Regions from separate parts of the Homo sapiens genome. Here region 2 is linked to region 1. Evidence: fine-mapped expression QTL. A gene starts in region 1. The other region holds a variant in brackets. All regions are shown on one strand. Distances are from middle to middle. Region 1 holds the start of ELP3 (elongator acetyltransferase complex subunit 3). Region 2 overlaps ELP3 (elongator acetyltransferase complex subunit 3).

What was found. PIP is the estimated chance that this variant, and not a neighbour inherited with it, causes the effect.
Region 2: its variant is fine-mapped to the expression of ELP3 in blood mononuclear cells (TOPMed, PIP above 0.99).

The regions. Positions count from the first base shown.
Region 1 is chr8:28,080,327-28,097,282 of GRCh38, forward strand. ELP3 (elongator acetyltransferase complex subunit 3) reads left to right here and starts at 12,813. Exons shown (of 15, transcript NM_018091.6): 1 at 12,813-12,907; 2 at 16,893-16,956. The coding sequence starts at 12,889. It overlaps NUGGC (nuclear GTPase, germinal center associated), which reads right to left and starts at 3,610. Exons shown (of 19, transcript NM_001010906.2): 1 at 3,449-3,610. RefSeq lists enhancers at 12,394-12,947, 12,439-12,488.
Region 2 is chr8:28,136,264-28,144,263 of GRCh38, forward strand. ELP3 (elongator acetyltransferase complex subunit 3) reads left to right here. Exons shown (of 15, transcript NM_018091.6): 10 at 1,435-1,628. Among named protein-coding and RNA genes, the nearest start is that of ELP3, 47 kb to the left of the region's middle. The variant GA/G (reference allele first, on the strand shown) is at 3,252.

The DNA of each region.
Region 1 (16,956 bases):
TGCATTTTTTCTGTGTTCAATGCAAAATTCAATGTGTTTATTACAAATGACAAATGTCCTTTTCTTTTCCCCTAGTTATTCTCCTTAGGCAGAATCTCATTTCACCCTACCTTGCCTCGCATCATTAACCCTTGCCAACACTATTTACTTACTTAAATTTAAATGCTTAAATTAGCAAAGTTTCTCAAAGGGGCATTTTGGTCATTAACATTGGTTTACTCTCTACTTTTAATAAATATGGGAAGTACTTGGTACACAGCAAGCACTAAATAATTTGTTGAATGAATGATGATAGATATAATTTTTTGTATCTATATCTAGATAGATCTATCTAGATCTAGATATAGATATATATCTTAGATGGTAAGATCAAGAATAGCAGAAATTATATTTACTATTTTATTTATCCATCCATTCATTCAACAAATATTTGTGAGTGCCTATGATGCACCAGGCACTGTTCTAGATACTGGGGGTACAGCAGGAAACAATGTGGTCACAGTATCTGCAAACAAAGGGCTTCCATATTCCAGATGTGAATGGTGGAGCAAAAATTATTAGGGATTTGGAGTCAGAATGCCTGGATTTTTGCTCCTGCTCCCAATCTTCAATGCAACACAGAGCAAATCACCTGATCTCTCTGAGCCTCTATTTCTCCACATATAGGATAGAATTGGTTTTAAAAAAAATACCTGTATCAAGAATTCATTGGCCAGGCATGGTGGCTCATGCCTGTAATTCTAGCACCTTGGGAGGCCAAGGTGGGCCGATCACTTGAGGTCAGGAGTTCGAGACCAGCCTGGTCAACATGGTGAAACCCTGTCTCTACTAAAAATACAAAAATTACCTGGGCATGGTGCAGCATGCCTGTAATTCCAGCTGCTTGGGAGACTGAGGCAGGAGAGTCACTTGAAGCCAGGAAACAGAGGTTGCAGTGAGTTGAGATCGCACCACTGCACTCCAGCCTGGGCAACAGAGCGAGACTCCACGTCAAAAAAATAAAAAATAAAAAAGAGTTCGTTGTGAGAATTAAATGTGATAATGAATGCAAAATTGCTCTGCAGGCACTTATGCATCTGTACAAATGTTATTTTTTGAATATTTTATGAAGGTAGTTAAACTAGAAATCAGTACTAGTGTCATCCAGGCCACGTCTGTTAGTCTTTGGGGAACAGATGCCACCTTAGCTGAGATTCTGACTCCCGTTCTTGTCCCTATTGATCAAACACATTGAGGATGCTCTACCATCTTCCTTAAAGAATCTTCGATCAGCTGGGTGCAGTGGATCACACCTGTAATCCCAACATTTTGGGAGGCTGAGCCGGGCAGATCATGAGGTCAGGAGTTTGAGACCATCCTGGCTAACTCGGTGAAACTCTGTCTCTACTAAAAATACAAAAAATTAGCCAGCCGTTGTGGCACATGCCTGTAGTCCCAGCTACTCAGGAGGCTAAGGCAGAGGAATCGCTTGAACCCGGGAGGCGGAGGTTGCAGTGAGCTGAGATCATGCCACTGCACTCCAGCCTGGGCAACAGAGTGAGACTCCATCTCAAAAAAAAAAAAAACAATCTTTGGTCAAGTTTTTTCTTGCTCTCACAAGAAGGTGAGCTGAAGAATGAAAGAAGGAAGAGGAGGAGACTGTTAATGAAATGATAGAATGTTGATGAAATTTAGAATTTATTTCCTTTCTCTTTGAGTTTGGGTTTAGGTTTAAGTAACTTTGGTGTTGGCAACATTTCCTAACCACCTCGTTGGCCACTGCACTGCTCTTCCAAACTAGGGATGTCCCAAGGCAGCAATTTAAACACATTAGCTCAGAAGCAAAAGTGAAACAAGGGCCTCCAAATCTCTAAAGGAAAAGAGGTATGTTTTCAGCATTAACACATCGGCTAATGTGTTCAGAATTAGAAATGTGGCCACCAGAAGCAGTCGTAGTAGAAGGGAGGCTTTAGGATGACATGTTTTTCTCCATCTTTCTTCCCTAGGTAAAGAGGTAAGCAAAATAAGCAGATATTTTCATAACGTACTTTAGCAGATTCTAGCGAAACGAATTTGAATCTTCTCATATTGCTCTCCCAAGCTTGTTAAAGCTAATGAGGCATAAGATGACACTTCCCTCCTTATCAGGAATTCATACACCTGCCAGCAATTTCTGCAATAGCTGTTTTCTTTTGGGAGGAATGATTAATGACTTGCCTAAGATCACACTGTTCTGTAAAATTCAAACTAAAACCTGATTCTCCCCATTTCTAGCCCACTGGCCTTTTTACATAGCCTTAAAATTCACTTAAACAGCCTGAGCATGGTGGCTCATGCCTGTAATCCCAGCACTTTGGGAGGCTGAGAGGAGAGGGGATCCCTTGGGCCCAGGAGCTTGAGACCAGCCTTGGCAACAAAGTGAGACCCTCATCTCTACAATTTTTTTTTTAATTAGCTGGGCATGGCAGCATGTATCTGTAGTCCCAGTTATTCAGGAGGCTGAGGCAGGAGGATTACTTGAGCCCAGAAGGTGAAGATTACAGTGAGCCATGTTCATACCACTGCACTCCAGCCTGGGTAACAGACCGAAGCCTCAAAAACAAACAAACCAAACCCCCAAAATTCACTTAAGCAAACAGAAAAGTAAAATTCACTTTCCCTCAAGAAATAACTTGCTTTAAGAAAATCAAAGGAGAGAGAAGAGACAAATGTCCCATATACAGAAGAATTCCAAATAATTTACGTAGCTACTCCATCCTCAAGGAGGTAGAATAAAACTCCCTGCTCCTTAAGTGTGTGCTGTGCATAGCAGCTTCTTTCCAAAGAGAACACGGCGGAGATTGGAGCAGGGAAAGGATCACCTTATAGCAGAGAAACCAGACAAGCGCTGCCTCTACCAGGTGGTCAAGGTCAACACCAACAGTCCTAAATCATGTTGACAATATTATCCCTTGATATGATGTGATGAGAACAGCACTTTAACTCTGGGACTCCTTCCCCAAAACCCATAACTCCAGTCTAATAATGAGAAAAACATCAGACAAATGCCAATAGGAGAAGCCTACAAAATACCCAACCAGTACTCCTCAAAACTGCCATATTCATCAAAAACAAGGAAAGTCTGAGAAACAACGCTACAGCTAAGAGGAGCCTAAGGGAACATAACTAAATATAATGTGCTATCCTGATAGGATGCCACAGTAGAAAGCAGACGTTAGATAAAAACCAAGAATCTGAATCAAGCACAGACTTTAGTTTAAGAATAACGTATCAGTATCGGTTCATCAGTTGTAACAAATGTACCACACTAATACAAGATAATGGGGAAGTTGGGTGGGAATTACATGGGAATGCTCTAAACTATCTTCTCAATATTCCTGTAAACTCAAAACTGTTCTAAAAATTAAGGTCCATTTTTAAAAAATCAACCACAAGTTACAGTACAAATTACATAAAAGAAACAACTTACCAGATGTCACTGAACAGAAAAAAAAAAAAAAAGTTCTGGTTTGGTTACAGGAGTCCACAGAGGAGATGGTGGCAGCTTCTCCTTGGTTCAGGTATTTGGAACCAGCTGGGGTACGTAGCCCTTTGGGCCACAATCACAAAGCCACGTTTACACAGCAGAAGTGAAACCAACTTGCCATCAGGGAGCTATTTACCATGGTCTCCTCCCACAGATACTGATTTATTCTGTCTTCTTTCACTTAAATCTAAATTCACCAGGCACGGTGGCTCACTCCTGTAATCCCAGCACTTTGGGAGGCTGAGGCAGGCAGATCACTTGAGGTCAGGAGTACAACAGCAGCCTGGCCAACATGGTGAAACCTTGACTCTACTAAAAATACAAAAAAAAAAAAAAAATCAGCCAGGCGTGGTGGCAGAACCCTGTAGTCCCAGCTACTCAGGAGGCTGAAGCAAGAGAATCACTTGAGCCTGGGAGGTGGAGGTTGCAGTGAGCCAAGATCGCGCCACTGCACTCCAACCTGGATGATGGAGCAAGACTACATCTCGAAAAAAAAAAAAATCTAAATGGTACATGAAACGGGGATCTTGCACCCTTCTCTGCCATGTTCCTACAAGTAGACAGATGTCTTTTTTCCTTTCCAAGTGCATCACTGCATCCTTCCACAGCATCTTTTCTCTGAGGGTGAACAATATTCAGATGACTGGTTCACTGGAGCAGACAGGAAAAATGCCCCAGTTCCAAGACAGACAAAGCACTGGCTCCCCGACACCCAACTATAAGACATGACTGGGAGAGATGGAGGATATGAGATAATAAATATAAAGTTATTCTTGACCCAAAGTCTTAAAATTCACCAAAAATAACATTTGCCAAAAATAAAACAACATTGGATTGTTTGAGTGTAGAAATGAGTGATATACCGCTTTACACCTCTTTCTGGAACTTAAATTTTAAATCCGTATATTTTTATGTCTTTATTTAGTTAGAGACAAGGTCTTGCTCTGTCACCCAGCCTGGAGTGCAGTGGCGTGATCATAGCTCACAGCAGCCTCGACCTCCCAGGCTCAAGCCATCCTCCCACCTCAGCCTCCTGGGTAGCTGGGACCATGGTCATGCTCCATCACGCCCATCTAATTTTAAATTCATATTTTTAATAAACCCAGAAAACAAAAATTTGAAAGTGCTGTCCAGGAGAGAAGAAAATAAAACCCACTCCACTTTGCTGTGTCTGGCAACCCAAACCATCACATCACATACAGGGAAAAAGTTGTCCCTTGAACCCTCAGCTTCAGGGTGTGTGTTACCTTTTTTTTTTTTTTGTGAGACACAGTCTTGCTCTGTCACCCAGGCTAGAGTGCAGTGGCGCCGTCTCAGCTCACTGCAACCTCCGTCTTCCGGGTTCAAGAGATTTTCCTGCCTCAGCCTCCTGAGTAGCTGGGACTACAGGGGTGCGTCACCATGCCTGACTTTTTTTTTTTTTAATTTTAGTAGAGACAGGGTTTCACCATGTTTGCCAGGCTGGTCTCGAACTCCTGATCTCATATGATCCGCCCACCTTGGCCTCCCAAAGTGCTGGGATTACAGGTATGAGCTACTGTGCTGGGCCAAGGGTGTATGTTACCTTTAAAGGCCAACTCAGTCATTACCAAGACAACCCTCAGTACTCTAGGTATGTATTTAGTCTGAAGAGGGGATTCAGAAGGTAAAGAGGTCAGAACAGGGAAAGAATTGAAGATAAATGTTTAGACTGTGGTCTTAAAAACTGCTTTGAACTTTTGGCAAGATGACGTCCCTCCTCCATAAGAAAACCACAGAAACACCAGGCTAAAGTTCAGAACAAAGAAAGTCAGCACAAATGCCATCCTGGATGCTGAGTCTTATACTGATCTCTCTAGGCAAAATCACACCTTACGCTTACATTCATGTCACGTGTGCTCAGCTCTCCCTCTACTGGCTATTTCTTAGCTTCAACAGTTAACCACAAATGCTACTAAATTACTTAATTATTAAAATTAATTTTGAGCATTTTTAAAGCTTCCTGGGGCAAGGCCCAGTGGCTCACACCTGTGATCCCTGCATTTTGGGAGGCCGAGGTGGACAGATCACCTGAAGTCAGGAGCTTGAGACCAGCCTAGCCAACATGGTGAAACCCTGTCTCTACTAAAAATACAAAATCTAGCCGGTCATGGCAGTGTGTGCCTGTAGTCCCAGCTACTCAGGAGGCTGAGGCAGGAGAATTGCTTGAACATGGGAGGCAGAGGTTGCAGTGAGCCAAGATCAGGCCACTGCACTCCAGCCTGGGCGACAAAGGGAGACTCCATCTCAAAAAATAAAAAAATAAAGCTTCCTGAGTTCCTTTATTTGTTTGCTTGTTTTTGTTTGTTTGTTTTAGACAGGGTCTCACTCTGTCACCCAGGCTGAAGTGTAGTGGCGTTATCACGGCTCACTGCAACCTCAACCTCCTGGGCTCAAGTGATCCTCCCACCTCAGCCTCCCAAGCAGCTGGGACTACAGGCATGTGCCACCACACTTAGCTTAAAAAAACAAAAAACAAAAAAAGAAAAACAAAAACAAAACAAAACTTTAGTAGAGATGAGGTCTCCTTATGTTACCCAGGCTGAACTCAAACTCCTGAGCTCAAGCGATCCTCCCATCTTGGCCTCCCAAAGTGTTGGGATTACAGGTGTAAGCCACTGGGTCCAGCCTCTGGGGTTCTTTATGGTAGTCCTTGGCACCTGCTATTGGACGCCTGAATGCTAGGCCTGTTAGATGTTTCTCCATTCTCTCAGGCTGAATTTCCATTGAGCTCACTGAAAACACTGAAGCAATGAGACCGTCCACAGAGCCTCATCATCACCCCCAACCACCTATCCGGTGCTCTGCCCTCCAGCCTGTTGCTAGATGAACTATCCATGCACCCATTAAAGGCCAATCCCTTCTCTGTGCACCAGATTCCATCCCTCTCTCTAACTGAAGAACCATGTAGAGTACTTCCTCCTCTTCTCTAATTCACCAAACTTTCACTCTCCACTGGATTATTCCCATCTGTGAACAGATTTGATGTCATTCATTCCACCTTAACAAACACTCCCTGGACCTCCATTTCCCTGCCAGGTATTAGTATATTTCTCTGCACTTCTTTATGACAAAACTCCTAGGCTGGGCATGGTGTCAGCACTTTGGGAGGCTGAGGCAGGAGGATCACTTGAACCCAGGAGTTCAAGACCAGTCTGGGCAACATAAGGAAACCCCTGTTTCTACAAAAAATAAAAATAAAAATTAGCCAGGCATGGTGGTGCATGCCTATAGTCCCAGCTACTTGAGGGGCTGAGATGGAAGGATCACTTGAGCCTGGGAGGTCGAGGCTGCAGTGAGCTGTGATTGTACCACTGCACTCCAGCCTGGGTGACAGAGCAAGACCCTGTCTCCAAAAAAACAAACAAAACCCCACAACTCCTCAAAAGAGTTGTCTCTACTTACTGTCTCAAATTCCTTTCCTCTCAAGCTAATATAAACCTATTCCAGTCAAGCCTTCACCCTTCCCATCCCATTAAAGCTGTTCTTGTCAAAGTCCACAATGATCCTGGTCAATTTTCAACCTTTATCTTTCTTGAGCCATCAGGAGCATTTGACCTGGTTGATCATTCCCTCCTGTTTGACAAACCTCCTACACTTGGCTTTCAGATAACCACTCCCCTAGTTTTCATCCCATCTCCCTGGAAGTGCTCCTCAGTCTCCTTCACTGGTTATTCCCTCGCTTCTCAACCTGTTAATAATAAAATACCCCAAGGCTTCATCTTCGGTCTCTTTCCTTTCCACAGCCACCCTGTTTCGTAGCTTTCAATTTCGTTCACATACCGATGGCTCTCGACTGATATCCAGTGTCAACCTCTTTCGTGTCTTCCTGTTCACTAGTCATCCGAAAATACAAGTTCAAACCAATCCCCGCCAGTCCCTTGAAACACCTCTCCACCTAATTTTCTCCATTTCATCTAATGATAACTACATTTTTCCAGTCCCTTGGTCAAAAAGCTTTGGTGTCACATTTGATGTTGCTGTCTGCCTTTCATATTCCACATCTGATCTGTCAAAAAGTCTTGTTGAAATCTTCAAATTATATTCAGAATCTGAACACTTCTCACCACCTTCACTGCTGACTACCCCGATTTGAGTCTCAATAATCTCTGGCCTCATTCAGTGGTTCCTAAGTTTTGCTGCACGTTGGAATAACCCAGGATCTTTTAAACATGCTAATGCCTGACTCCCACCCCTTGATATTCTGATTTAATAGGTGTGGGATGTAATCTGGGCACTGGGAATTTTTCACTGCTCTCCAGGTGATTCCAATTGCAGCAAAGTTTGGGAATCATTGGCCTGGCTATGGTAACCGCCACCCACCTGATCTCCCCACTTCCACACCAACCCCCTCCCACAGTCTATTCTCAATGCAGCAAATAGACATGCTTTTAAATTACAGATCAGATCCATTCAATTCTCTGCTAAAAACACCAGTGGCTCCCCATCTCAATTAGGGTAAAAGCCAAAGGCTTTTCAATGGCCCACAAGGTGTTACATGAGCTGCACTGCCCCCTGTCCCATGCGCCACTCCTCTGACCTCTCTTTCACATTGCCTCACCCACTGCTCCCGTGATGTCAGCCTCCTCAGTCTCCTTGAACACCCCAGACATCCTCTCACCTAGGACTTTTTTTCTTTTTTGAGATGGAGTCTCGCTCTGTCACCAGGCTAGAGTGCAGTGGTGTGAGATCTAGGCTCACTGCAACTGCCACCTCCCAATTCTCCTGCCTCAGCCTCCCGCGTAGCTGGGAGTGCAGGCGCGTGCCACCATGCCCAGCTAATTTTTGTATTTTCAGTAGAGACAGGGTTTCACCATGTTGGCCAGGATGGTCTTGATCTCTTGACCTTGTGATCTGCCTGCCTCAGCCTCCCAAAGTGCTGGGATTACAGGCGTGAGCCACTGCGCCTGACCTTCACCTAGGACCTTTGCACTAACCATTATCTTAGCCAGAAATACTCTTTCCCACATATCTACACATCAAGTATTAGCTCAAATATCACATTGTCAATAAGGCCTACTGTAACCCCTATTTAAAATTATACCTTTAACCACCTATCTCCCTCCCCTCTCTGAGATAAAACAGGGAAGAGGTAGAGGATGGTGCCATTAGATAAGGAAGAGCAGATCTGGAGTAATAATAGAGTTCTGTTTGGGACATGTTAAGTTTGAGATGCCTATTAGACACCCAAATCTAACAAGATATCAAATAGGGGAAAAGTTGGGGTTGGACTGGAAACCTGGGAGCAAACACGTGGTGCTCTGGGGATCACCTTGGAGAGACAAGGCTGAGTGACCCCCATGGAACACTAGTATTCTGAGGTGAGGCAGAGACAGAGTTCACAAAAGAAAGAGAAGAGAAACCAAGAGAGTTGGAGGGCCCTGTCATAAAAGATGTTCATGGAAGAGTTGACAAAAAGAGTCAAACTCTGTAAAATACTTGAAGAGATTTATTCTGAGCCATGATTGACCAACTGAGGCAAGACAGGCAAGCTCCAAAATTGGGGCTTTGCCTGGGAGGGTTCTTGGCTTTGCCCAGGAAACAATTCAAGGGTGAGCTGATGGTGTTAAATAGCAACTTGCATTGAAGCAGCAGTGCACAGCTGCAGCAGAGGGACTGCTCCTTGCCGAGCAGGGCTACTCACAGGCAGTGCCCAGAAGAGCAGCTCAGAGGCAGTTCTGCAGTCATATTTATACCCACTTTTAACTGTATTCAAATTAAGGGGCAATTTACGCAGAAATGTCAAGAATGAGGATGGTAACTTCCAGGTCATCAGGTCATTGCCATGGAAAGGGGAGGGTAATGTTCAGGTGTTGCCACGGCAATAGTAAACTGACATGGCATACTGGTGGGCATCTTATGGAAAGTTGCTTCCACCCCTGCCCTGTTTCAGCTAGTCCTCAACTTGATCCAGTGTCCAAACTCTGCCTCCAGAACAGAGTCCCACTTCCTACCTCACATGGTCTGTGACAGAGCCCCAGGGGATCCTGAGAACATGTGTCCAAGGTGGTCAGGTTACAGCTTGATTTTATACATTTTAGGGAGTTATAAGACATTACTACATGTAAGATGTATATTGGTTTGGTCCAGCATGGAGGAAAAGTTAAATATTAAATCTGAATTCAATTGAACCTGGACACAAACAATAGTCACCAAGTCCTGGAACAAGTTTTGTGAGTCCCTTGAGGCTTTCATCCAGCGCTGTTTCAGAGAAATCTCTATTTCAATCTATTCCTATACATTAGTTATTGAAAAACAATAGACAATAGCAAAAACAAGTTGACCTTTTTGTGTTCCTTGAGCCTGGTTGTGAAGGGCCCTTGTGACTGGGCCTCATGCCAAACAACTTGTTACAAAAAGAGCTAGGGTCCCAGGCCCAGCCGAAGCTTCAGGAGACCTATCCTCATCTGTGCAAGGAGGAGTGGCCAACTCTGGAGCCCAGGCTGTTGCTTCCTGGTCTGGTGGTGAATCCTCCATAGTCTGGTGAGTGTAGTGCCCAACTCTGGAGCCCAGGATGTTGCTTCCCGGTCTGGTGGTGAATCCTCCATAGTCTGGTGAGTGTAGTGTCCAAGTCTGGAACCCAGGCTGTTGCTTCTTGGTCTTGTGATAAATCCTCCATAGTCTGATGGGTGGGTGTGTGTGTGTGTGTGTGTGTGTGTGTGTGTGTATACACATATACTTTCCCTTCTACCCTTCCCATTGCAATTTGCTTATTATATCTGCATTGCCATTTACATGGGATAAAGGTCGTTTACCCTTAAAGGTATTGTGTATGTGTCTTTTCTTCTCCCCTCACGCATATCCCACAGAGAACAACCAGAAAGGTGGGACAACTCAAAGCATTGATGTGGGGTCAGGGGGCAACACTTTCAGGTCACAGGCAGATTCAGTTTTCTCTGACTGGCAATTGGTTGAAAGAGTTATTATCTATAGACCTGAAATGAACAGAAAGGAATGTCTGGGTTAAGACACAGAGTTGTGGAGACTAAGGTTTTATCATGCAGAGGAAGCCTCCAGGTAGCAGGCTTCAGAGAGAATAGATTGTAAATGTTTCCTTTTTTTTTTTTTTTTTTTTGAGCCGGAGTCTCACTGTGTCGCCCAGGCTGGAGTGCAGTGGTGCAATCTCGGCTCACTGCAAGCTCTGCCTCCCGGGTTCACGCCATTCTCCTGCCTCAGCCTCCCAAGTAGCTGGGACTACAGGGGCCCACCACCACGCCCGGCTAATTTTTTGTATTTTTAGTGGAGACGGGGTTTCATCATGTTAGCCAGGATGGTCTTGATCTCCTGACCTTGTGATCCGCCCACCTCGGCCTCCCAAAGTGCTGGGATTACAGGCATGAGCCACCGCGCCCGGCCGTAAATGTTTCTTATCAGACTTTAAGAGTCGGTTCTGTGCTCTATCAGCCTTAAGGTCTCTGTGTTGATGTTAACACTGGTTAGCAGCTCCTGAATTCTAAAAAGGAGGAGGGAATAAGGAGGCATGTCCAACCCCACTTCCCATCATGGCCTGAGCTAGTTTTTCAGTTTAACTTTGGAATGCCCTGGGCTGAGAATTATTTTCGGTTTACAGAGGAGAACTTATGTTCATTGGTATAGGATGACAATGAGGTCAGACAAATACCACTGAACTTGGCAGGCTGGGAAGTTACAAAGCTTAGCAAGGCCAGTTTCAGTGTCATAGTGGGGTCAAAGCCTCGTTGTTGCCTCAATTCTAGTAGGGTACATATTCCTGTCTTTATTAATGGGAGAGGTTCTTAATCTCCAGCCCATGGACAAAGGAGATCATAGATGGGTTTCAGGAAAACATCCCAAGTCCTGCCTCCAAATTTTGCAAAATTTTGTGCCTGTGTATTTTTCTGGAGAACGTAAACCAAACAGTGTCTGAGACAGGTCTCAGTCTGGAGGTTTATTCTGCCAAGGTTGAGGACACACCCAGGAAAAAGAGACATAAGTTATCATGGAATCTGTGGCCTGTGGTTTTTCCAAAGAGGGTTTTGAGGACTTCAATATTTAAAGGGAAAGAGCAGACAGAAGGGGAAAGAGGAACAACTATGCATTCATTTCACACTCAGTAAATCTGCCTTTTACAGAAGACAAAGTAAACATAGAGGAAGGAGTCAAATATGCATTTTTCTTGGGGTGGACTGAAGGGTGATTTCTAGTCTTGTCCTTGTCCCCTACCTACTGTAAATTTGCATGGTCAGGGTGGAATTCAACAGAAGTGTTGTAAGGTAAAGACTCTGCCACTCACAAGGAATTTCCCTGTGAGCAACTCCTCTGGGAGGCCACCTAGGGAGATATGTGGGCTTCTGTCTTTGCAGCTGTTTAGGAACAGAAGGAAGGCAGTTTTTGCGTGACTCAGTTCACAAGCTTAACTTTTTGTTGTTGTTGTTGTTGTTGAGACAGGGTCTCGCTCTGTCGTCTAGGCTGGACAACAGAGAATGATCTCCACTCACTGCAACCTCCACTTCCGGGTTCAAGAGATTCTCCTGCCTTAGCCTCCCAAGTAGCTGGGATTACAGGCGTGCACCACCACGCCTGGCTAATTTTTGTATTTTTAGTAGAGACAGGGTTTCACCATGTTGACCAGGGTGGTCTTGAATGCCAGACCTCAGATGATCTGCTGGCCTTGGCCTCCTGAGATGGGCATAGTGCTAGTATTACATGTGTGAGCCACTGCGCCCGGCCCTAAGCTTAACTTTTTTCTTTGGCAGAGTTTAGGGTCCCGAGATGTTATTTTCCTTCCACAAGAGACATCCACAGCTTTCACGATGGTTACCGATCATATGTGCCATTCATCTAAGACCAAGGTGACCACCTGGTCCCAAAGCCTGCACCTCGGATTCTTACTCGATTCCCGCCTGGTCTCTTCCAGGCCCTCAGTTAGTTTCCACAACATGGGAGGGTTCCTCCTCCGTGGTCTCGCCCATTCGCGTTCCCACCCACCCTCCCCGGATGTGACGACCCTGGGCTCCCACTCCCCCCCATGAGAGACCATCCACTTCCACCCTTTCACTTAGGCTTCCTGGCGCAGCCTCTATCCAGGAACTCTGTCCCATAGCTGTACTGCCCAGGTCGAGCTTTCTAACCCCAAGATGCCACTCCGTTCAGACGTTCCCATCCTCCATCCCTGAGACCCGGGGCAGGATCGCAGCCTAGGGGCCTCACGGGCCGCCTGCTACCCTGTTAGTTGCAACACGGGGCGGGGCGTGGCTTTGTGCACGTCGGCTTCCGGGAAGAGCTTTACGATACATTGACCGACATTTTACGACAGGCGGGATTGTTTTGTGGCTGTCAGCTTTCCCCGTGGTCTGAGTTTGTGGCTGCATTTTTATCTCTGGTGGCTCTGCTACGGCGGCGCAGAAATGAGGCAGAAGCGGAAAGGTGCGAAAGGGGAAGGAGATGGGGGAAAGGGGTGGTCCGAAAGGGGCGAACGCCCAGGCAATCAAATGCTGAACCGAACTTTTACCGCGAGAATCCGCTACCCAGTCCAGTCGCCCCGCCACCTAGGGTCAGTGTGTCCATTCTGGTCCCCGAGCCTTCTCGTTTTTCCTGTTTTGCTTTTTGAAGCACCCTACCCTTCCTCTCTTCCTCTTTGGCAGTCACGTGGTGTCTTGTTTGAATGGCAGGGAAACCATTATTCCAATATATGCCCTCCGAGGAGTTAACGTCGATTTAACGGGTTGTAGGACTTTTCATTTGTTAAGATTTGTTTCACGACACATTTGACGTGTTAGAGAGTTTCTTTTAAAGCCTTATTTTAAGATATTAAAAAAACCTTAATTATCCTTGGATTCAGTGTAAGAGTTGTGCATGCAATTATTCCCATTTTTATTACATCATGAGTTAGCAATGAACAATTCCACCTTTGGTTTTTCAACAGGACGGATTCAAATTTGAAATATTCTCTCACAGGTTCTGTTCCTATTTCTGTATCTCACAGGTTCTGTTCCTATTTCATTTGACCAGCTGGTCTAATCATGGTAATTGTTGTCAGAATAATAGCTACCATTTATTGAGCTTGTATTTTGAAGTCGGTATCATTTCCATTTTACAGATGAAGAAGCTGAGATTCAAAGAGTTAAGTAACTTTCCCAGACCAAAATTATACTTAGATATGGAGCTGGCTGGTCAGGCTGTATCTGTGACCTCAAAAAACATAAAATGAAAAATAAATACATCGTTAATCCCTATGCTTCTTGACATTAACTGTTATTTTTCTTTCTTCCAAGCAACAATTCTAAGTGTCCAAGTTACCTTAGATTAAGTCTTGTCATATTTGCATGCCCTAAATTAATTTGTTATCTCACTCTAACTTGCTCCTTCTCAATCTACCAGGATTCTTTTAGTTTCTTCTGTCACCAAGTCATGTTGATTCTTACTTAGAAATTACTTCTTGATATAGTTTATTCCTCTTCATTCTGGCCGCCAACCTCCTAACCCACCTTCATCACTAACTAATATTTGAATGGTATTTCAGCTTTCATATACATTATTTATTTGAGTCTTAGAATGGTTTTGTGAAATTTGGATGTATTACCCCAATTTTACAGACAAGGAAATGGGCACTCAAAAGTTGTTGATCTTGGCCAGGCGCGGTGGCTCATGCCGGTAATCCCAGCACTTTGGGAGGCCAAGGCGGGTGGATCACTTGAGGTCAGGAATTGGAGACCAGCCTGACCAACGTGGTGAAACCCTGTCTCTACTAAAAACACAAAAATTAGCCGGGCGTGGTGGCAGGTGCCTGTAATCTAATCCCAGCTACTTGGGAGGCTGAGGCTGAGGCTGAGGCAGAGGCGGGAGAATCACTTGAACCTGGGAGGTGGAGGTTGCAGTGAGCCGAGATCGCACCACTGCACTCCAGCCTGGGTGACCGAGCAAGACTCTGTCTCAAAAAGAAAAAGAAAAAGAAAAAAAATTGTCGATCTTTTCCGTTACCACACAGCCAGTAGGCATTGGGACTGGATCCTGTCTTAGATTTTGTGGGTTTTTTAAAACAATGTTGCCTTTCAAGAGCCATTTGAGTAGTATCCATATTATATGTATTCTTTTTCACTTTCTGAATCATTCTTTGTACCGATAATATTCTTACCTTCCTTAAACGTTACTTTCAACTTTTTATTTCCAAAGTTGAGAATATGCAATTCTTCACTGTCTGTTGCATTCCATTTCAATGCCTTTGCCTAGTGGCCAGGGTCCCCTGTAATCTGTTCTTTATTACACCCTGTTAGAAAGCTGGATTTTAGTTAGGCTGTGCTGTTTCACACAAAGATAGGTAATTCCTATGCCTGACATTATTTCTTCTGGATTGCCTTCTGTTTTGCATGTCCAAATCTTGCCCTATCTTTAAAGATCCCTGTGCCATTTCCTTCATGAAGTCTTTTCCTACTCATTTACTCTTCCAGTTCTTGATACACTCAAGAGCTATACAAGTGGTTTCCAAATCTTATCTGTTCTTATCAGCCGATCCCCTTTTACCCTCCAAATAAATTCTTACACAGAACCTCAATATATAAACAGCTGAAAGCAGAGCTGCTGTGGTGGAAATAAAGAGACCTCCTCCTTTTTTTCCTCCATGCCTTATTTTCCTCTTCCCTTCTCCCTTCCTCTGCCATGACCACCACCAGTCCTACCTCTGTTGCATGGCCCCTGAGGCACCTTTGTAGAACTCTGGAAGTGCTGAGTTACATGGTTTGGAAAGCATTTAGCCTTTGAGTATAGATGGACTTTATTTCTCTCAAAAATTGTTGTGTATATGTTAGCCTTGCCTCATTAAATTAGATGCAGTGTGTTACAGTGAAAAAAGCATGGAAGTTGTGGTGAAAAGAGCTGGATTTGAGTCTTGGCTCTGCTGTTTACGATAGCTTGTTAACTTGCCTTAGCCTCATTTTTCACATCTATAAAATGGGATAACAGTACCTACCCTCCGTGTTACTGTAAGGGTTCAAATGAGATAAAGTAAATGTGTGGGCTCCATAATTGCCAGGGCCTTCCATCCACGCTTTCATTATGTTTTAGCTTTCTCTGCAGTGTGAGTCCTCAGCCCCCTGGGCCACGGACCAGTACCGGTTCATGGCCTGTTAGGAGCTGAGCCAGACAGAAGAAGGTGAGCAGCAGGCGAGCAAGTGAAGCTTCATCAGTATTTGCAGCCACTTCCCATCACTCATGTTACTGCCTAAGCTCTGCCTCCTGTCACATCAGCAGTGGCATTAGATTCTCAAAGGAGTCTGAACCCTGTTGTGAACCGTGCATGTGGTGGGTCTAGGTTGTGTGCTCCTTATGAGAATCTAATGCCTGATGATCTGTCACTGTCTCCCATCACCCCCAGATGGGAGTGTCTAGTTGCAGGAAAACAAGCTCAGGGTTCCCACTGATTCTATGGGAACAGAATTCGTTATGGTGAATTGTATAATTATTTCATTACATATAACAATGCAGTAATAAAAATAAAGTGCACAATAAATGTAATGCACTTGAATCATCCTAAAACCACCCTGCTCCCCTGGTCTGTGGAAAAATCATCTTCCATAAAACCAGTTCCTTTTATCAAAAAGGTTGGGAACCACTGCTCTACAGGTGAGAAGCTTGCTTGCTGACAGCTTCCAAGCTGATATCCCACAGCTTTTGTCCCTGGAAAAAGACTGGCATTTTTTACCTTGAAGAAAAGAGCTCAGATTGGCCTGGCTTAGAGATATGCCCATCCTTGAACCAATCCTTGAACTGTGCTTGAGTGGATGGCGTCATACAAGAACCTGTCAGCTTCTGCTGTTGCCTTTGGATGAGACCGAGAGCCCCAGTTGCCAGAAGTTCATGATGGTGGACAGACAATATTTTAGAAATGCATTAAGATTCTTAGGCAGATACCTGGGTTTGAGTTTCAACTTTACTCCTTGATAGCATCTTCATGTAACAGGCACATATTCTTGTTCTGTCTACCTCTGTTCTGAGAATTACCTGAATTCATGCATCTAAATGTTCTTTATGAACTCTAAAGTATTATGCACATATTAGTAATTACACCTCTGGAGATAAAGGGAAGAGAATTACTTTGGTCCTTTCCTGTGTGATTAAGTTCTTTCTCCTCACATTGTTTCTACTCCTGTATCCTTTCCTGTATTTATTTTTAATAATCTCATAGAGTATGTGCTTCTAAAGGGAGCTTTTCCCATATATATGTAAAGCCACGTTTGTTTTAAAGATACAAAAGATATGATCAAATTGTAAACAGTAGAGATTTAGCATCTTCTGAACTTGAGCTATTCATTTGGCATATTTGTATGGTTTCGGATGGAAAACTGCTACTAAATCAGATTTTAAAATCTTGATTGAATGATACGATTTTTGACATTGTTGAATATTAACTTTCCAGGAGATCTCAGCCCTGCTGAGCTGATGATGCTGACTATAGGAGATGTTATTAAACAACTGATTGA
Region 2 (8,000 bases), 51 kb after region 1:
TGTTACTTTAGTGTGGTTTTGGAGGGAAAGAAAATAAACACTTTTTTAAATTCTCTAGTGTAACTGAAAATTGAGAACCAATCAATTTTCATTCTTTCCAAAGGAATGTATCAGCCTGTATGTCTCCGAAACTTATTATACAAGCACCAGAAATACTTTTCTAAATCCCATGTTCAAATGTAGATTCAGACTGGGTGAACAATGGCTTCCATACGTGCTCTTTGTGGGATGGCTGCAGAATATTTATTAAAGACCTGATGATTCTTTAAAATATAAATGTTACAGGAAAATCACACAATTACAGAAGAAGATCTCTGAAACTAAATAGTACATAAAGAATACAGCATTTAAGAACGTGACAGATGTCAATGAGAGATGGAAAAGTCTATTGTTATATTTCTTTGTAAAGCAAGTTAAACAATGAAGAGCTTTGGAAGACTAATGTGGCAAAGATAAAAAGTATTTTTCCAGTTTACAAGATAGAGCCCTGCCAGCTGAGTAGATACTCCCACCAAGGTGGGAGTGAGAGGGGACTGTGAGTCCACTTTCATTTCTCCAAAATATATTATGCAAAACAAGATTAGAGCAAATTATCAGTGCAAAGTCATGGAAAGGAGAATGCCTGGTGTCTCATTGCTACATCCCAAAATAAAGAAAGAAAGCAGCCAGCTGGGGTGATGTAGTATAAGAAATGACTTGCCAAAAGTAGTTGAGTTAGATCTATTGCTCAGTGTCCAGATAACAAATGGACAAGGTGTAGCCCAGGATAGGAATGGTGCCAGTTGGTTTAGGGACAGAGTAGTCATATCCAGGGATCAGCAAACTTTTCCTCTAAAGGGCCCTATAGTAAACATTTTAAATTTTGTAAGCTAGATGATCTCTGTCACAACTTTTGAAATGTAAGCAATTAAGTATATTCCATTATTAAAGAAAGGTATACTCTAGAGGTGAAGGCAGACATTGAATAGATTGTCATGTGATGATAAGAAAGAGGTAATACTGGGTTCAGTGGGATTTTTTTTAAGTGGGACAGCTAGTATTTGAAAGTCAGAGGGGCCTCTCTGAAGAAGTGGCATTCAAACTGAAACCTGAAGATTAGCTAGATAAAGAAAAATTGATGAACTTTCCAGGCAAAGGAAATTGCCTTTGCAGGAGTGGAAAGGCCAGATGGTGAGGGGTGGCATGAGATGAGATTGTGCAGGAGACAAGCTGGAATGGTGAGGGCCTAGTGCAGTCCAGCACACACTTGCTTTGCCCCAGTGAGACTACAGAAACAAGGAGTTTCTGTTCTGTCTGTACGCCCTACCTGGTCAGAAGCAAAGGCTGCCCCAGGGCCTACTGGGTGTGCCAGAGAAGCTGTCAGGGGTTGAGATTTCACCCTCGGTGATCTCTGCATAACTAATGGAGAAGTCATTTTCTGTTCTCTATTCACAGGAGTTTTTTGAGAACCCTGCTTTTCGTCCCGATGGGCTGAAACTCTATCCTACCCTGGTGATTCGTGGGACCGGGCTTTATGAGCTTTGGAAATCAGGAAGATATAAGAGTTACTCTCCTAGTGACCTGGTTGAATTGGTGGCTCGGATCCTAGCCCTCGTGCCTCCATGGACTCGAGTGTACCGAGTACAGAGGTAGTGTGTTATCTTTTATTCCTAAAATAGTTGGTGACTAGTCTGTTTACTATTTCTCATGGAAATAGTCTGATTTCATATTGAGGGTTTTGGATTTTTCTTAATGGAAATAAGATAACTGGAATGCTATCTGTAAATAGGGAGGGATGGAAATCATAGCATGTCTAAGCCACTTTGCCAATAACGTATTTATTTATCTACCCATTCATTCATGAGCCTGGAGACAGAGCCATGACGGTCAATAGGCATGGTGCTTGCTTCCGAGCAGCTTATGGTCTAGTTCAGTGTTTCCTCTTCCAGGTCTGCTTCCATCTAGATGCAGTAATGGGTATGAGCATAAGAAGTGTGGCCGTGTGTGCAATCTCTGTTCTAGAGCCTCTGAAAGAAAAAGTAGCAACAATCACTCTTTACAGATATTAATGTAAATGTGGAGGAAAGGTGACATATTTCTGATGGCTTGAAGAAAACAAAATAATCTGAACTGCTTTCTTCCTAGAAAAGAGAAAGTAAGATCTCATTTACAATCAGGAACCTTATCTACCTATTTATACTTACATACATACATACATATATACTGGAAACATAACATCACAGAAAAATTTTAGAAGCCATAAAGTTACCCGTATACCTACAATCCTAACAAAGCCAATTCCCACACACACATTCCCACCACCCTGCCAAAAACTACCCAGGTTCCAATATTACAAATGCAAGGCCAGAAGGAGACTGCAAATGCATTACAATCAGCTGCTAGAGCAGGACTCCACTGAGCACAGAAACTGTGTGACTGATCATGTAAAGCAATGAACACTGAAAACAAGCCGAATTAACTACTTAAGGAGAATTATGAAGGATATAAAGTAACTGACTTGCTTGAAGGTCAAAGGACATTTACATGATACTTCTGCTGCATACTGATTTCTCAGTTTTAAAATCATTGGCCAAACTGCAGGATCTGAATTGCCTATATGGTCTCTATTTTTAAAAATACACCTAAGAATACTAAGGAGATTTTAATAGAAAAATCAACTGTTGAAATTGCTTGTGTGGCCCTTCCCCTTGTTGTTCAACCCTTCTGAAGCAATTCAGTCCAAAGGACATTAGGTGGTGCGGAGCAGTGTAGGTATCCACATGCAGGAGGCAGGGAGCCACAGGGTCCAGAGCAGGGTGAGAAGGTCACTCATTCACATGCAGGAGGCAGAGGCGTGGTGCAGGCTGATGAAGTCAGAATGTGGCGAAAAGGGCATTCATTCCCACCAAGGGCAGATCTGGTACAGGATGTCAGAGCTGTACGTCCTCTAGGGGTGGGTTGGGGGTATATGCAGAAGAGGAGACAGCAAGAAAAGACCAGTTACTTACAGGGAGTTGATCTAATCAGCAGATATATTAAGGATACTGGGTGCTAGGTTTTTTTTGTTATCTTAGAAGTCAATTACAAAAGTTGAAAAAGGAGAAAATTAGTGTGAGCACTGTGGTGTTTTGGAACAGGAGATAGTGGTGTGAACTCATGGTTTCCAACATATAGGTACATGTAGAAATAAGTGTAAATGTAATGAATAACAACACAGGTGGCCCTTCATATCTTCGGATTCTGCATTCTACAAATTCAACCAACTGCAGATG[GA/G]AAATATTCAGAAAAAACAGTGGGTGGTTATTGCATCTGTACTGAACATGTATAGATTTTTTTTTCTTGTCATTACTCCCTAAACAATACAGTATAACAACTAGTTATAGTACTTACAGTGTATTAGATATCAATAAATAATCTAGAGGCCAGGCGTGGTGGCTCACGCCTGCAATCCCAGCATTTTGGGAGGCCGAAGTGGGCGGATTACCTGAGGTCAGGAGTTCGAGACCAGCCTGGCCAACATGGTGAAACCCTGTCTCTACTAAAAATACAAAAAATGGCCAGACGTGGTGGCAGGTGCCTGTAATCCCAGCTACTCAGGAGGCTGAGGCAGGAGAATCACTTGAACCTGGGAGGCGGAGGTTGCAGTGAGCAGAGATCATGCCATTGCATTCCAACCTGGGTGACAAAAGTGAAACTCCATCTCAAAAAAAAGTAATCTAGAGGTGATTTAAAGTATACAGGAGGATGTGCATAGGTTATATGCAAATACTACACCATTTTATATGAGGGACTTGAGCATCCATGGATTTTGGTGTCTTTGGGAGTCCTAGAACCAATCCCCTTTGGATACCGAGGGACAACTGTACATATTTTGTGTGTGTGTGTGTGTGTGTGTGTGTGTGTGTGTGTGTGTTTTATAGCAATCAGTGTACTTAGTTTCCAGTGAGCACAGCTGGTTTCTAGATCTTGGTCTCTAAATGCTCTCCATTACTAAAAGGAACCTCTTGTGCCAGAAAGTAAGGAAGTATTCAAAGAAGAAAAGGGAATCTGGCTTAAAGGGCTCCCATTGGCCAAATCTGGGACAATTTGAGCATCAAAATAAATATTGATATTAACAGATTATAACCAGCTGAATAAAATAGGAATCCACTAGTTTATACCAATATTCCTAATTAATAAATTGTAAGTGTGATTCAGAAACATAATATTTGCAGTCAGTCTTCATCATTCTCAGATTCCTTATTTGCAAATTTTCCTACTCACTAAAATTCGTTTGTGACTCAAATCCAATACTGGCATTTTCACAGTCATTCTTGGGCATGCTTAGCAGTGAAAAATTTGAGTTGCCCAGCATTGTCACCAGCTGAGGTCAAACAGGTGGTGCTCTGCCTTCTCATTTCAGCGCTCACACTGGGAGCCAATGTCCTTCTTGCAGTCTGTTTCATGCCATGTTTTTCAAAGTTTTGTGCAGTTTTTTGAGGATTCGCCATTTAGTATGGCCCCCAAGCATAGTACTGAAGTGCTGGCTATTGCTCCTGAGTGCAGGAAGGCTGTGACGTGCCTTCTGGAGAGAATACATGTTATGTAAGCTTTGTTCAGGCATGAGTGATGTGCCATTGGCCATGAGTTCAGTGTTCATGAATCAACAATATATATCAGATAAGGTGTGTTTAAACAGAAACACACATAAAACAAGGTTATGTATTAAACAGTCGACAAAAATATTGTGACCAGGGCCTCACGGGAACCTAACCTTGTATTTTCCCTAAGAGCAATTACTCAGTATACAGTGTAAGTGTGTTGGTGACACTCGGTGTAGAATGTTAACTACTTATTGCCTGCTAACAGAACTAGAACCAACTACCGACTGTACATAGTTGCAGAGTATCTCCCCCACCATACTTAGCAATTGCAGAGTGAAAGAGAATAACCTAATAGTGGGAAAACCTGGCAGCTGATCAAAGTGAACATTATCAGTAATAGGACAAATCACAATTCTAGGCTGCCTGATAGAGGGTATGAGAACGTAGCATCACTTCTCTGTTACTCAGCCAGAACTTCACGATCTGAATCCAATAGTCAGGAGACGTTAGACAAAACAAAATTGAGAAACATTCTAAAACATAACTGGCCCGTAATCTTCAAAAGTATCAGGATGAAGAAAAGAGTTCTAACTTGAAGGAGACTACACAGACATGACAATTAAATACAATGTTCTGAACTGGGTCCTTTGGCTGTAAAGGACTTTAATGGGACACTGGTGAAACTCAAATGGGGTCTAGGATTAGACACTAGTGAAGCATCCATGTTAACTTCCTCATTTTGATGGTTCTTTTGTGGTTATGTAAGAGAATATCCTCGTAGGAAATATTTAAAGTATTCTCAGGGCGTTGGGACATCTTATTTGCAAATTAACTTTCAAATAGTTCAGGAAAATAATTATTTGTACTGCACTTGGGACTTTTTATGTAACTTTGTGATTGTTTCAAAATCTAAACTAATACACTAGACAACAAAGCTGCAGTAAATAGCATTCACAGAGACAAAAGAAAAAGACGATTTGCATGTATAACTGACTCAAGCAACCAGAAAGCAGTAAAGATGCAGCTTCTCAGCCGCAGAGCATGGCAACAGATAGCACAAAATAGTTAGCAATTTCACATCCAGAAATACCGAAAGTAACAAGGCATGGATCCCACAGGCAATCAGATGAAGAATTTGCATTTTCTCCCTTCGTTTTCGGCTTAAATTTCTTTCTGCTGTAACCAGTGAGTCAAAAGCAGCAGAGACATTGCTATACTATTAAATGCTTAATTTTATAGACTTTTAAATACCACTATGCGACATTATCCTGGCCTACCAACAACTGAGAAAATAAGGACTTGAAGAAAACAAGGGCAGCAGAAATAGTCTCTATAGGAAAAATGTAAAGGAGTGATGACAGGAAGAGTGGAGAACACTTATATGATACAACCGAAAGGTCATATGATAAGAAAGGCATGACATTATTAATAAGCAACATATGAGGCCTGTTAAGGAAACCTGGCTGTTCTCAGTTCTTCTGATATGACCCCGTTACACTTATCCTATGGAGAATTGGCCCATAGGAGAGTCCACAAGCTCTAATTTCAGGAGGCCCAACTGTCACATATGTTTCTCTATCAATACATCACTTATGGAGCTTGTGAGTGAGGAGTGGTACAGGTGGATGTAGGCTTAAGATTTCGAAGTGACACTCTTACTTCACACATAGGTGGGTGGATTAAAATGTAATGGAATACTGTAAAACAAGAGGCAGTGGTGCAATCTCTTTCAAAATGTGGAATTAGTAATGTCCTCGATGAGTCTGAGGACAGTTTATTTTTTGAAGATAGTGATGACTCAGTTCCTAACACAGTAAGGCCATTGGTGAAGAGAGTCATCCAGAGTCTAGCTGTGATGTCAGGTTTTTATGCTTTAGGATTGATAATGTAGTTAACTGTGAATATGATCATTTGCTAGATTTTTTAGTACAAAGACTAATATGTTCATAGTATTTTCCATTTTGTTTTCTTATTTTTTATGTAGTTTTGGTGCTTTTAACTATGATATTTGTTGTCACACACGTTTCTGTTAGAATTCATTTTTTTTTTAACGTACCTTACTGTGGACTGAGGTTCAGTAAAGCATTTACTTTTTTGTAAGCATGAGGAGAATTCCTTGAGATGCATTATGTTACTTTATGTTTTGCATTGAGTGTTACTAAACTATTACTCTGACTGCCTGCGTAAGAACTCATTCATATTTATTATATTTTGCTACTTCCTTTTTACTCATTTCTTTGTATATACCACATTGAAAAATGATTCAGATTTATTTTATATTGGAACTTGCTTTTTATTCTTAACAGCCACTGAAATCACTGAAATTTTAGACTAGGCATATGCAGTGCTGAGGTAGCTTATGAGATTTCACGTTCTAGTCAATGTATTACATCTTGTGTTTCTGCTGTGTAGCACCACTCCCATGATCTCATACACTTCTTTTTTGATCATGTGATTTTATACTCCCCCCCAACAGTCTGTAGAATATTACTAATTATCCAGAACTTATGTTTCTTCCTGATTTCTAGCCATAAAATATTCTATTTACATGAGCAAAATAATGTTTTCTCTGTAAAACTACTAAACCACTTTCAATATATGTATTAATAACAAGTTAACATTATTTTTCCAAAAATTTCCTTACAAAGTTGGAGTGCATCTTTACGTATCAGTATATTTTATACACTAGCAAATTTGCTGTTAGCACTTTCATGTTCCATTTCCTAAGGATTTAGAATAATCTTCATGGTTATAAACTTAATGGCAGCATAGTACTCTGCAATTTTAATTTGTCTTTTTTAGTAAACTGTTCGCCTTGTTAGAAATTTAGGTCGCTTCCAGGTTTCTTTGCTTTCTTCTTCCTTTTTTAAATGTAATTATCCTGGCCTCCACTACAGCTAAACTTCATAGAACTTTCTACTGCTGTTGAAGTAATCTCTTAGAGTAGTATAATCTGGGAGAAGGATTACGCATGGTAAAGGGTCTAAGCATCTTTTCATTATTATTATACTTCTTAAATCCTTTCTGGAACAAGGGGAAAATAAATAAATGTTACAGTTTTTGCTATGAATATTGATATGGCTTTCCAAAGGGATTATACCAGTTTAAAGTAAACATTTACTGGTTTTATCACAACCTCTATAGAATTGGGTGCTTTATAGTATTTTTATTTTATTTAATTAAGGGTATTAATTTGCATTTCCCTAGTTTCCCTTGTAACTGATTATTATTTGTGTTTCTTCTTACATCAGTTGTATGTTTATATTTAATTTGCCAGTCATGAAATTTGGATTATAAATATTGTCTTTTTATTGAGAAAGCTCAGAAAAAGTTCATAAATGTTGCCTCATTTTGAATTCTTTCCTCTCACCCAAACGAATAGGAGACTAGGGAACCAAGAGGCCACATTCATGTTCGTATAGGACACTTAGCACATAA